Linked DNA regions of Homo sapiens. The protein of the gene in region 1 purifies or fractionates together with the protein of each later gene. This does not show direct contact. Each region holds a gene or a part of one and is shown on either strand. Other genes may lie near its edges. The genes, in order: SLC27A6, PTER and GUCY1B1.

What was found.
Region 2: the proteins of SLC27A6 (region 1) and PTER purify together in Homo sapiens (affinity purification with mass spectrometry; one large-scale study listed by BioGRID and IntAct). This does not show direct contact.
Region 3: the proteins of SLC27A6 (region 1) and GUCY1B1 purify together in Homo sapiens (affinity purification with mass spectrometry; one large-scale study listed by BioGRID and IntAct). This does not show direct contact.

Annotation. Positions count from the first base shown.
Region 1 is NC_000005.10:128,971,976-128,975,626, reverse strand, and holds part of SLC27A6 (long-chain fatty acid transport protein 6), read right to left. Parts: intron 1-3,651. UniProt on the Homo sapiens protein: Mediates the import of long-chain fatty acids (LCFA) into the cell by facilitating their transport at the plasma membrane.
Region 2 is NC_000010.11:16,440,008-16,443,658, reverse strand, and holds part of PTER (N-acetyltaurine hydrolase), read right to left. Parts: intron 1-3,651. UniProt on the Homo sapiens protein: N-acetyltaurine hydrolase that regulates feeding by catalyzing the hydrolysis of N-acetyltaurine into taurine and acetate. N-acetyltaurine has anorexigenic and anti-obesity effects that are dependent on GFRAL receptor and GDF15.
Region 3 is NC_000004.12:155,757,501-155,761,251, forward strand, and holds the start of GUCY1B1 (guanylate cyclase soluble subunit beta-1), read left to right. Parts: upstream 1-1,520; 5' UTR 1,521-1,640; coding exon 1,641-1,643; intron 1,644-1,855; exon of another isoform or gene 1,856-2,041; intron 2,042-2,286; coding exon 2,287-2,360; intron 2,361-3,751. UniProt on the Homo sapiens protein: Mediates responses to nitric oxide (NO) by catalyzing the biosynthesis of the signaling molecule cGMP.

The DNA.
Region 1 (3,651 bases):
ACAACAGTAGTCCCATAAGATCATACCACTATGTTTTTACTGTACCATTTCTGTTTTCACTTAAAAATACTTACCACCATTGTGTTCCAATTGCCTACGATATTCAGTACAGTAATATCCTGGTACAAGTTTGTAGCCTAGGAGCAATAACCCATACCACAGCGCCTAGGTGTGTAGTAAACTATGTCATCTAGGTTCGTGTAGGTACACTCTATGATGTTCACACAACAACAAAATCACCTAACACATTTCTTTTGTTTGTTTGTTTGCTTTTGTTTTTTGGAGTCTCACTCTATTCCCCAGACCGGAGTGTAGTTGCACGATCTCAGCTCACTGTAATCTCTGCCTCCTGTGTTCAAATGATTCTCCTGCCTCAGCTTCCCAAGTAGCTGGGATTACCAGTGTCTGCCACCACACTCGGCTAATTTTTGTATTTTTAGTAGAGACGGGGTTTTGCCATGTTGGCCAGGCTGGTCTCAAACTCCTGACCTCAGGTGATCTGCCTGCCTCAGCCTCCCAAAGTGCTGGGATTACAGGCGTGAGCCACCACGCCTGGCCCGTCTAACACATTTCTAAGAAAAGTATCCTTGTCATTAAGTGATTCATGACTGTATATACTAGCTAACATCAAATAAGGTTGTAGCTGCAAAATCCAAATGAGATCCCTTATTAAAAGCCCCAGGATTACTCTATAATCATAATAGCAATCATTTAAATACAATAAGATCTACTTAGTACATACCAGGCACTCAGCTAGCCACTTTACAAAAGATGTGTCATTTAATCCTCAGAATTATACTGTGAATCAGATGGTATCATCACCATTTTACAACTAAGTTCAGTGAGATCCAGGGTAACTGATGATATTATCTTTAACCATACAGCCAGGAAGTGGCAGACCATACATGGAATTTGGGTCTGTCTGGCTTACCTCCGTCTGAACCACATGATTCATCTTTCTACCTCAATATACTCTCCCTGGGGGTATAATGATTTAATAGTACACCATCAGAAACATCCAATGAGAATCCAAGAAATCTGAAATTTAATGTGCTAAAAAGAGTATGTTTATATTGTTCACAAATGAGACTCCAGATGCCAACAACACAGTATTTTAAGTATAAAAGTGACTATGATCTAAGCTACATCTTATTACAAAATCTGTTAATCAAAATAGAATTTTTCCATCTTTGGAAAACATATATCTCATTTATATTTGAAGGTATGCCAGAAAGAATGGGTGACTTCTCCAGTGACCTACTTACCGAGCCAATCAACTAAATAGTCTTGGCTTAAAACTTCAGTATCCCAAAGTGGCTTTTTTAAATACAAAAAACTGACTGTTGGTGTTAAAAACAAAAATAAGAAAACAATGCAATTAGTTATTGGCAAGCAAAGTAAAAGCTGGCACAAGTAAAACTGCAAAATTAATTGGTCCTAGTTAAACAACAATTCGGTCAACAGAAAAGCCTGAATGCTCTATCTTGAGAAGTAGCCAGTCCTATGTACTTTAAGACGAATCTCTCAGGAAACCGGCTTTGGAATGTCTCCATTTTTTCAGGGACACTGTGGCCCTCTTGGTTGGCCCTTGTAAACAGAACTTACGGCCTTATCAATTATTAGCAAAACTTGGAGTTTACATTTGCTCCTAGACCCTTTCCTCCCGTAATGAAAACAAGATTAAAATGAGTGCTCAGAAGTAAACCTTTGTGTTTTTATTGTTCCAAGATAGCTGAATAGGAACAGCACCAGTCTATAGCTCCTAGCGTGAGCGACGCAGAAGACAGGTGATTTCTGCATTTCCAACTGAGGTACCGGATTCATCTCATTTGGACTTGCTGGACAGTGGGTGCAACCCACAGAGTGTGAGCAAAGTAGGACAGGGCATCGCCTCACCTGGGAAACACAAGGGGTCAGGGAATTCCCTTTCCCAGCCAAGGGAAGCTGTGACAGACGGTACCTGGAAACTCGGGATACTCTCACTCTAATACTGCACTTTTCCAATGGTCTTAGCAAACAGCACACCAGGAAACTATATCCCGTGCCTGGCTTGGTGGGTCCCACACCCACGAAGCCTTGCTCACTGCTAGCACAGCAGTCCGAGATTGAACTGCGAGGTGGCAGCAAGGCTAGGGGAGGGGAGTCCACCACTGCTGAGGCTTCACTAGGTAAACAAAGCAGTGCGGAAGATCGAACTGGGTGGAGCCCACCACAGCTCAAACCGGGCTGTGTGCCTCTGTAGACTCTACCTCTGGGGGCAGGGCATAGCTGAATAAAAGGCAGCAGACACTTCTGCAGACTTAAACGTCCCCATCTGACAGCTCTGAAGAGAGCAGTGGTTCTCCCAGCAGGGAGTTTGAAATCTGAGAACCGACAGACTGCCTCCTCAAGTGGGTCCCTGACCCACGAGTAGCCTAACTGGGAGACATCTCCCAGTAGGGGCCAACTGACACTGCATACAAGCAGGTGCCCCTCTGAGACCAAGCTTCCAGAGGAAGGATCAGGCAGCAACATTTGCTGTTCTGCAGCCTCCGCTGGTGATACCCAGGCAAACGGGGTCTGGAGTGGACCTCCAGCAAACTACAACAGACCTGCAGCTGAGGGTCCTGACTGTTAGAAGGAAAACTAATAAACAGAAAGGAATAGCATCAACACCAACAAAAAGGACATCCACATGAAAACGCCATCTGTAGGTCACCATCATCAAAGACCAAGGGTAAATAAAACCACAAAGATAGGAAACCAGAGCAGAAAAGCTGAAAATTCTAAAAATCAGAGTGCCTCTTCTCCTTCAAAGGATCACAGCTACTTGCCAGCAATGGAACAAAACTGGATGGAGAATGAATTTGATGAGGTGACAGAAGCAGGCTTCAGAAGACCGGTAATAACAAACTTCTCCGAGCTAAAGGGGGATGTTCGAAACCATCACAAAGAAGCTAAAAACCTTGAAAAAAGATTAGATGAATGGCTAATTAGAATAAACAGCATAGAGAGGACTTTAAATGACATGATGGAGCTGAAAACCATGGCACGAGAACTGCATGATGCATGCATAAGCTTCAGTAGCCAATTTGATTAAGTGGAAGAAAGGGTATCAGTGATTGAAGATCAAATGAATGAAATGAAATGAAACGAGAAGAGAAGCTTAGAGAAAAAAGAGTAAAAAGAAAAAACAAAGCCTCGAAGAAATATGGGACTATGTGAAAAGACCAAATCTACGTTTGATTGGTGTACATGAAAGTGATGGGGAGAATGGAACCAAGTTGGAAAACACTTTTCAGGATATTATCCAGGAGAACTTACCCTACCTAGCAAGGCAGACCAACATTCAAATTCAGGAAATACAGACAACGCCACAAAGATACTCCACAAGAAGAGCAACCCCAAGACACATAATTGTCAGATTCACCAAAGTTGAAATGAAGGAAAAATGTTAAGGGCAGCCAGAGAGAAAGGTCGGGTTACCCACAAAGGGAAGCCCATCAGACTAACAGCTGATCTCTTGGCAGAAACTCTACAAGCCAGAAGAGAATGGGGGCCAATATTCAACATTCTTAAAGAAAACAATTTTCAACCCAGAATTTCATATCCAGCCAAACTAAGCTTCATAAGTGAAGGAGAAATAATATCCTTTACAAACAAGCAAATGCT
Region 2 (3,651 bases), on another chromosome or scaffold:
CTATCCAAGTCATTTAATAATGTTGCTTCCCTTTTTACCTAATTACATAAATGTTTAAAGTCACGAGCATTAAGCTCTCCTCCAAGTAATGTTAGTTAAAAAGAAGTTCCTGAACTGAGGAGATTCTCCAAAGATGTGTAGTCATCACTTGGAAGGTCAAATTTAACAATCAAAGAAAATAACTCCAAAAACAGTAGCTTCCAAACAGACCATTACTATTGCAGTGGAGCATTTTGGGCTCAGTTGTATCTCCCTGCAAAATTTGTCTGTTGCAGCCCGAACCCTCAGCACCTTAGGATGTGGTTGTATTTGCAGATAGTCTTTACAGAAGTAATTAAGTTAAAAGGGGGTTGTTAGGGTAGGTCTCAATCCAATAGGACTGGTGTCCCTATAAAAGATCAATACCCAGACATGCATAAAAGGGAAGACGGCCATCCACAAGCCAAAGAGAGAGACCTCAGAAGAGGCCAACACTGCTGACACCTTGATCTGGGACTTCCAGCTGCCAGAGCTGTGAGAAAATAAATGTCTGTTGTTAAAGCCACCCAGTTTGTGGTATTTTGTGATGGCAGCCCTAGGAAGACAAACATAGTGAGTAATCAAGGTCATCTAATCTAAGCTACAGAAATGGCCCTTAATTACACCTGGGGGCTCTACATTTTATTTCATCTTATTTTTATTGTTTTTGAGACAGAGTATCACTCTGTCACCCAGGCTGGTATGCAGTGGCACAATCTTGGCTCACTGCAACCTTCGCCTCCCGGGTTCAGGCGATTCTCCTGCCTCAACCTCCTGAGTAGCTGGACTTACAGACGTATGCCTGGCTAATTTTTGTATTTTTAGTAGAGATGGGGTTTCGCCATGTTGGCCAGGCTGGTATCGAACTCTTGACCTCAAGTGGTCCGCCTGCCTTGGTCTCCCAAAGTGCTAGGATTACAGGCATGAGACACCACGCCTGGCCTGCAGGCTCTGAATTTATAAAGTGAGAAGAAAATCTGTCAAAAGAGCTGGCCAGGCACATGCAAGTCAACCTAATTCTTATTTACTTATTTAATAGAGATGGGAGTCTCACTGTTGCCCAGGCTGGTCTTGAACTCCTGAGCTCAAGCAATCCTCCCGCCTTGGCCTCCCAAAGTGCCGGGATTACAGCATGAGCCACCGTGCATGGCCAACCTAACACTTTTAAACAAATTCTGATGGCAATCAGATGACAGCTCAGGGCATGGGCTCTGACCAAATAAATCTTTATTTCAATTTCTCAATTACATGGTCGGGCTTTATCTGTCCTCCAAACTGTTAGAGAGCAAGACTGATAACATCTAACCTTTCAGATATGCAAGAATGTAGGAGATGAGACATGTCGAATTGTCAAGGCATAAACATGAGATAACTTTGAGAATTTATGAAAATTTAAAAAATGTTTTTAAAAATCAACAAACAAATAATTTGGAAAATAGTAAGCCACATCAGGAAAGAAATTTTGTGGGTACACAGTAACACCAAGGATTTTGTGGTCGCAATGGGCTTTCAGTTACATAAAAGAGCACGAAATTAACAATATTTACCAATATTCTCTTCAAAGTGCTCTTCACACACCAAATAATTACCCAATTAAGCCACTGCAAGATAAGTTGCTATTACTCTGGATTTAGTAAAAAGAACTAATAATTACTCTTTTAACAGTTTCTGTGAAGAAAGAACTCAGTGTTTACCATACACAAGTGAGCACATCCCACCCGTTTAATAAGTAGGGAACAGGAAAAAAAAAAAGGCTGATTATGTAAGTGAATTCAGTGGAGGACACAGATGACTAAGAACCACAACCTGTGAAAACAGAGAATTTAATATGTAAAGCAGAGACCACCATTGGCAAAAGGCTATTTATGAATACTGCCAATACTTAGCATTGCCAGCTGACAATAGAAGATCTTCGGTCATGCCCCGAACAACATAATTCATCACACTAGTGCTTGGGCCAGTCACGTCCAAGCAATTTATCATCATCATATCACTCGCCTGACTATAATAAGGGGAGAACTTTGATTGTTAACCTCTAGGGAGACTGGATTTATAGCCAGTGTCCCCTAAGAATGCAGCACAGCTCTGTCCAAAGCACAATGCTCCCGGCTTGCCTTCTGTTTAACTCAGAATAAAAGAGTGAACACACTGCCCCTAGGACATTAACAGCAAAACCTAAGTCTGATACTCTTAGATCCGAAATCAGATAGCCAGGAAATCATATTTAAAATACTCTTTGAAGCTGCCTGAAAAAAAACGTATTAGTCAATGGTAAGTACGGATGATTCATTTCAAATGTCCTTCAGTGACAAAATAATTTCTGAAATGTATCCACTGATAACTGCATTTGGGAAGAATCATCTTTTCACAACTCACCCACGAACATTCCTCTGTATTGGAAAACTTGGAAGTGCACTGAAAATTGTTAAAAATATATAAATTGTGTTTTTCAAAGTAAAAATGAAAGCCTTGATTCTTATCCCTTCCAGGCATACAGCCTTTACCTATTTTACACTTTAACATGGTCTGCCCTTACAGAATGCAATTAAACATCTAAACGCCATTTTTGCCACTCTTGATTAAAATCACAAAGCAGACTGGAGCATGATGGGAACAGCACACCTGCCATCTCCCACACAGTAAAAGGAGCATGATTCATAGGACAAGCCTCTTTCAGGGCCCTCCCCACAGCTCCCAAGGTATCTGGTAAACCAGAGCCAGAAATCCCCGCATACATGCAGCTTATCTGATAATATTCATTACGCAGGCTTGACCAGGCTAGGCCACAGTAACACTCAAATCCCCGAATCTCAGGGTCTGACCACAACAAAAGTTTATTTCTAGCTCATCGAATACGTCTAACACAGGAAGGCAGGGGGCTCCGCTCACTGTCCTCTATGACCCAGGCTGAGACCACTGCCTCTATCTGGATGGTCACTGCGGCAGAGGGAAAGTGATTGTGACAAATCTTTCACTGGCTTTTAACACAGTTTTACCTGGAAGTGACACAGGTCACTCCACTTGCGTTTCGTTAGCCAAACAAGTCACGTGGACATACCTGCCTGGAAGGAGACAGGGAAATGGCTAACATTCACAGCTCTCACGCTGAGCAGGCACAGAGGTATTTGTACTCAGGTGGTTATTGTTTTGACAAAATAGGTACAACCACAGAGCCAGTTTATGCCAAATGGAACCAGATATTTTATTTTTCTTATTCTTTTTTCTTTTTCTTTTTTTTAAGAGATGATGTCTATGAATGAGAAGCCTTTTGTTATAAAAGTGTTATTAAGGGCCGGGCGTGGTGGCTCATGCCGGGAGGCTGAGGCAGGTGGATCACCTGAGGTCAGGAGTTCAAGAGCAGCCTGATCAACATGATGAAACCCCGTCTCTACCAAAAATACAAAAAAATTAGCTGGGCGTGGTGGTGCATGCCTATATTTCCAGCTAGTTGGGAGGCTGATGCAGGAGAATCACTTAAACCTGGGAGGCAGAGGTTGCAGTGAGTCAAGATAGGGCCACTGCACTCCAGTCTGGGCAATAGAGTGAGACCCTGCCACAAAAAAAAAAAAAAAATCTTGTTAGGAAAACCTGGACCACTGAAAATACACTAGAAACAACAGCTAAAGAAAACAG
Region 3 (3,751 bases), on another chromosome or scaffold:
CAGACGATAGCCATATCAACACTTCCTGTGTTTCCTCCCAAACCATTATTCTTACAGCAACATGTATGTGCCTGTGTTATTACCCACATAGCACCTTACTGTATACTAACTCTAAAAAATGGAAAATGATTACATTCTTGTGGTGTTTTGTAAACCTGACAATACTTTTCTGCATCATCATTTTCTAGTCACCCTCCTGCTTTTTCATGGTTGTTTAATGTGCCATTTTAATGGTTCAAAATTAGTGGTTAATTGTTGTTAAATAATGATTAATGTTTTAATAGTTGTTTAAAACAAGGTGTTAGATTGTATGAAAGGCTGTAATCTATTTACTCATTCCACCAATAATGGAAATTTTTAAAGTAATTTGTTGTTTTGTTTGTTTGCTACATGCCACTATTTCTGTATCAGTTTCCTTCATCATAGCTCTCTCGGTGCTGATGTCAGCACAATCTTATTGTTTTGACATTTTTCTCTAACCATATTGAGACTGTTCTCACAACAAAATATGCACATCTTAAAATACCATCTGGCTTCTCAGGTCCACTTGAGACTGGTGACCTCACTTTTGACCTTGCCCTAAAAGTCAACTGGAGTCCATATACCTCAGGTACAAACAGCTTTAATAAGCTGCCACTTCCTGTTCCTCTCATCTTCTCTCTATGGCAGGACTCAGAGCATTAACTAACCTAAGGGCCTGGTAGAATGTAAGCTGGAGGTAGAGTAGTTAAAGTCTGTGCATTTTGTACTGGTCATTTTCCAGTTCGTCTGTTGCTAAGAAACAGCAACAGAGGCCCGCTCTAGAGGGTTACAAACTCCCTGGAATTATGGCTCCCGGACATGGTGTAGGGAAAGGTGTCCCACAGGGATCAAGCCTAGAATATCGCTGGATCTTGTACAGTTTAGTAAAGGGCAGGACTGGATTTAACATAACGTCCACCAAACTACATTACTGAAAATTTTTGGTGCTTCACTCAACTAGTCTCATTGACTAGAAGTGAAAATATGTTTTTCTCAATATTACCAGCTTTAAATTTGCCATAAACTGTTGTGGGACCAAGCCACAGAGGAAATGTTTTTCCGCTAGACAAAGATAAGCATGAGGATGCCAGCAACAGAGGATATTCCTTTTAAGGTCTGTCCATTGCAAAGTACACACGTACACGCTCACACAACAAACACGCCCTGTTCCCTTTTGCTTGTGTTAACCACTGAGGGCAGATCTCTGAATAATAATACATTTAGTGGGTCCACAAGAGCTGCATTTCCTCTGCTCCAGAATTCATGCAAGGAGCACGGCTGGGGCTTCTCCACTGTCATTGTTATGGCCTCAAATGAAGGCCTTGTCACCAGGCGGGGGCGGGAAGGCACTGGAGCGCAGCAGCATTGAGAGCATCCGAATTCCCTCCTCTGTCCCTGATTGGTTGAAGAACTGGGGAGCACCGACCAGCCCCCTGCGGCTCGACTCGCCATTGGCTGGGAAGAGGTGGCAATCAGGGCGGGCCAAGGCGGCTGTTCTCGCTCCAGCTCGATGCTGCCTCCCCGGCCCGGTTGCGCTGTAGCCGCTGCCGCCTCTGCCTGGGTCCCTTCGGCCGTACCTCTGCGTGGGGGCTGCCTCCCCGGCTCCCGGTGCAGACACCATGGTAAGTGCTCTCAGCCGGGTGCGGCCCGAACCTCACCCCTCCTCGGCCGGCCTGGCAGCGAGGGAACTGGCCGCGCAGCCGGAGCTTGGCTCGGGGGCCCTGGGCGCTCACTGCCGGCCACGGGAGCAGCCTCACTCCTTGCCCGCGCCCAGTCAGGGGAGGTGGGAACGCCGCGAGTCGTGGCGGGGGCGATCGGTGCCTTTGCTTCCCAGGCGGGTTTGCCGCTCCACACCGCAGCTTCCTGAGCTCGGGAAGGGGAGGTGCGGCGGAGGCGTGGGGTCTTCCCGGCTCTGGCCGGCCCCACCAGTGTGGGAGGCTGAGCGCCAGCGGAAGGGAAGGCTCCGGGTTCGCGTCCCCGCGCTGCCCCCGATGCCCAGCCTCTCCCGGAGCGGTGACAGGTGAGGAGGGTGGGAAGATAGCGTGGGGGTGGGGCGGATGGTGACGGGGAGAATCCACCAGGGATTGGGGGGTTGCGCCCCCACGATCCGACTCCTTTAGTGCATAGTACCCCTAAGGGAGAGGAGTCAGGGGCGGGGTGAAAGGTTAAGCCAGCGCCATGGGAGCAGAGGCAGCAGCCTCGCCCCCAAGCCGCTTCTCAGGTACAGCGGGTCCCTGACGCTCAAGTCTCTCCCTGTCCCCGCAGTACGGATTTGTGAATCACGCCCTGGAGTTGCTGGTGATCCGCAATTACGGCCCCGAGGTGTGGGAAGACATCAAGTAAGTGGCCGGCTACCCTGGCTGTGGCCCAGGTCGGCGCCCAGTGTGGGAGGCCCCCCGCGCCTCGCCTGGTCCTCAGCCTGCTGGCCGGGTCGCGGGCGCGCATCCTTGGAGGTGCCTCCGCGCCTCGCTCCCGGCTCGCTGCAGCTGCGCTCCCACGCTCCGGGACTGGAACCAGGAGGGGAGGGGCGGCTGGGGCGGGGCTGCGAGGGCGAGAACCGCGGAAAGGAGCCCCTAGGGGTCACCACGGCTTCCCGACCCGGCCTGAGCGTGGGAACGCGCTGCCGGCGCTCCCAGGCTCAGCAGGCCGGGCAGCTCCCACGCGTGCAGAGCCCCGAGGGACCACACGGGCCTCCGCGAGGTTCCTGCGCCCGGAGGCCTTAGAAACAAACGGAAGACTTTGGCTCCTTTATGATTTACACACCTGGCGTAAGTTAGGCCTTTTTGGTATGCTGAAACACGCGGGAGATTATTTCTTGAGCAACAGTGAATTAAGCGCATTTATTCATTTTTAAATAAAGTGAAAATTGGAAGTTTTTTGTTTTCCCCAAATCCCACTGCCCACCCCCCCCGCCCCAACCCCTATCCCCCGTTTTTTTCTACTGTGTTGAAGACTTAACAGTTCTAGGAGGCATTCTACTTTCAGTCCTGGAGCTTTGAGCCCAGTACTGGGGATGTGAACGGAAATACCACACCCACCTGAGAGTTTAAACCTGTTGGAATGACTGATGGGTCAGCATGTCTGCAGGCAGGTTGACTATTTCACTCTAATAAAGTTGTCTCTCCTTTTTCCTCTCACTCTCAAAAAATTTGCATTTAACTTATGGTACAGCTGACCACCACCAACTAGCTACTCCAAAACCCTATTTATGGATTTTCATATTAGAGCAACAGTCAGACTATCACATTGTAACAAAGGTGGAAGGAAGGGTTTCCTGGGTGGGCAGATGGGAATACACTGTTATTATTCACTCTGATTTCCTGTACTTAGTGATTTCATTTTGTTGTCTCAGGTAGGTGAGGCTTCCATGCTGTTTTTCCCTAAGCACATTACAATTATTAGCAATCAATTCTAACAGGCCTTATTATGCAGTTACATGATGGTGATTTCTCATAACGATCTGTTTCCATAGAAATGACCAGGGTTATATATTAAGCACGAAAATGTAACTTTTCTTTCCCCTGGATCTGTATCACTGAGCGTTTCTTTCATGTTTCAGAAACCATTTGTATTATCCACAGGGCATATTACCTACATATTATAAACAGAAGCCGAGATTTGGCAAGTATGTGGTTGAATCCAATGAGAACATAGGCACCAAAAGTTACTTTAGGATTTGAATTTTCTGGCCATCTTAATACCATTATAATTTTTATTTTGCTTAGTAGAC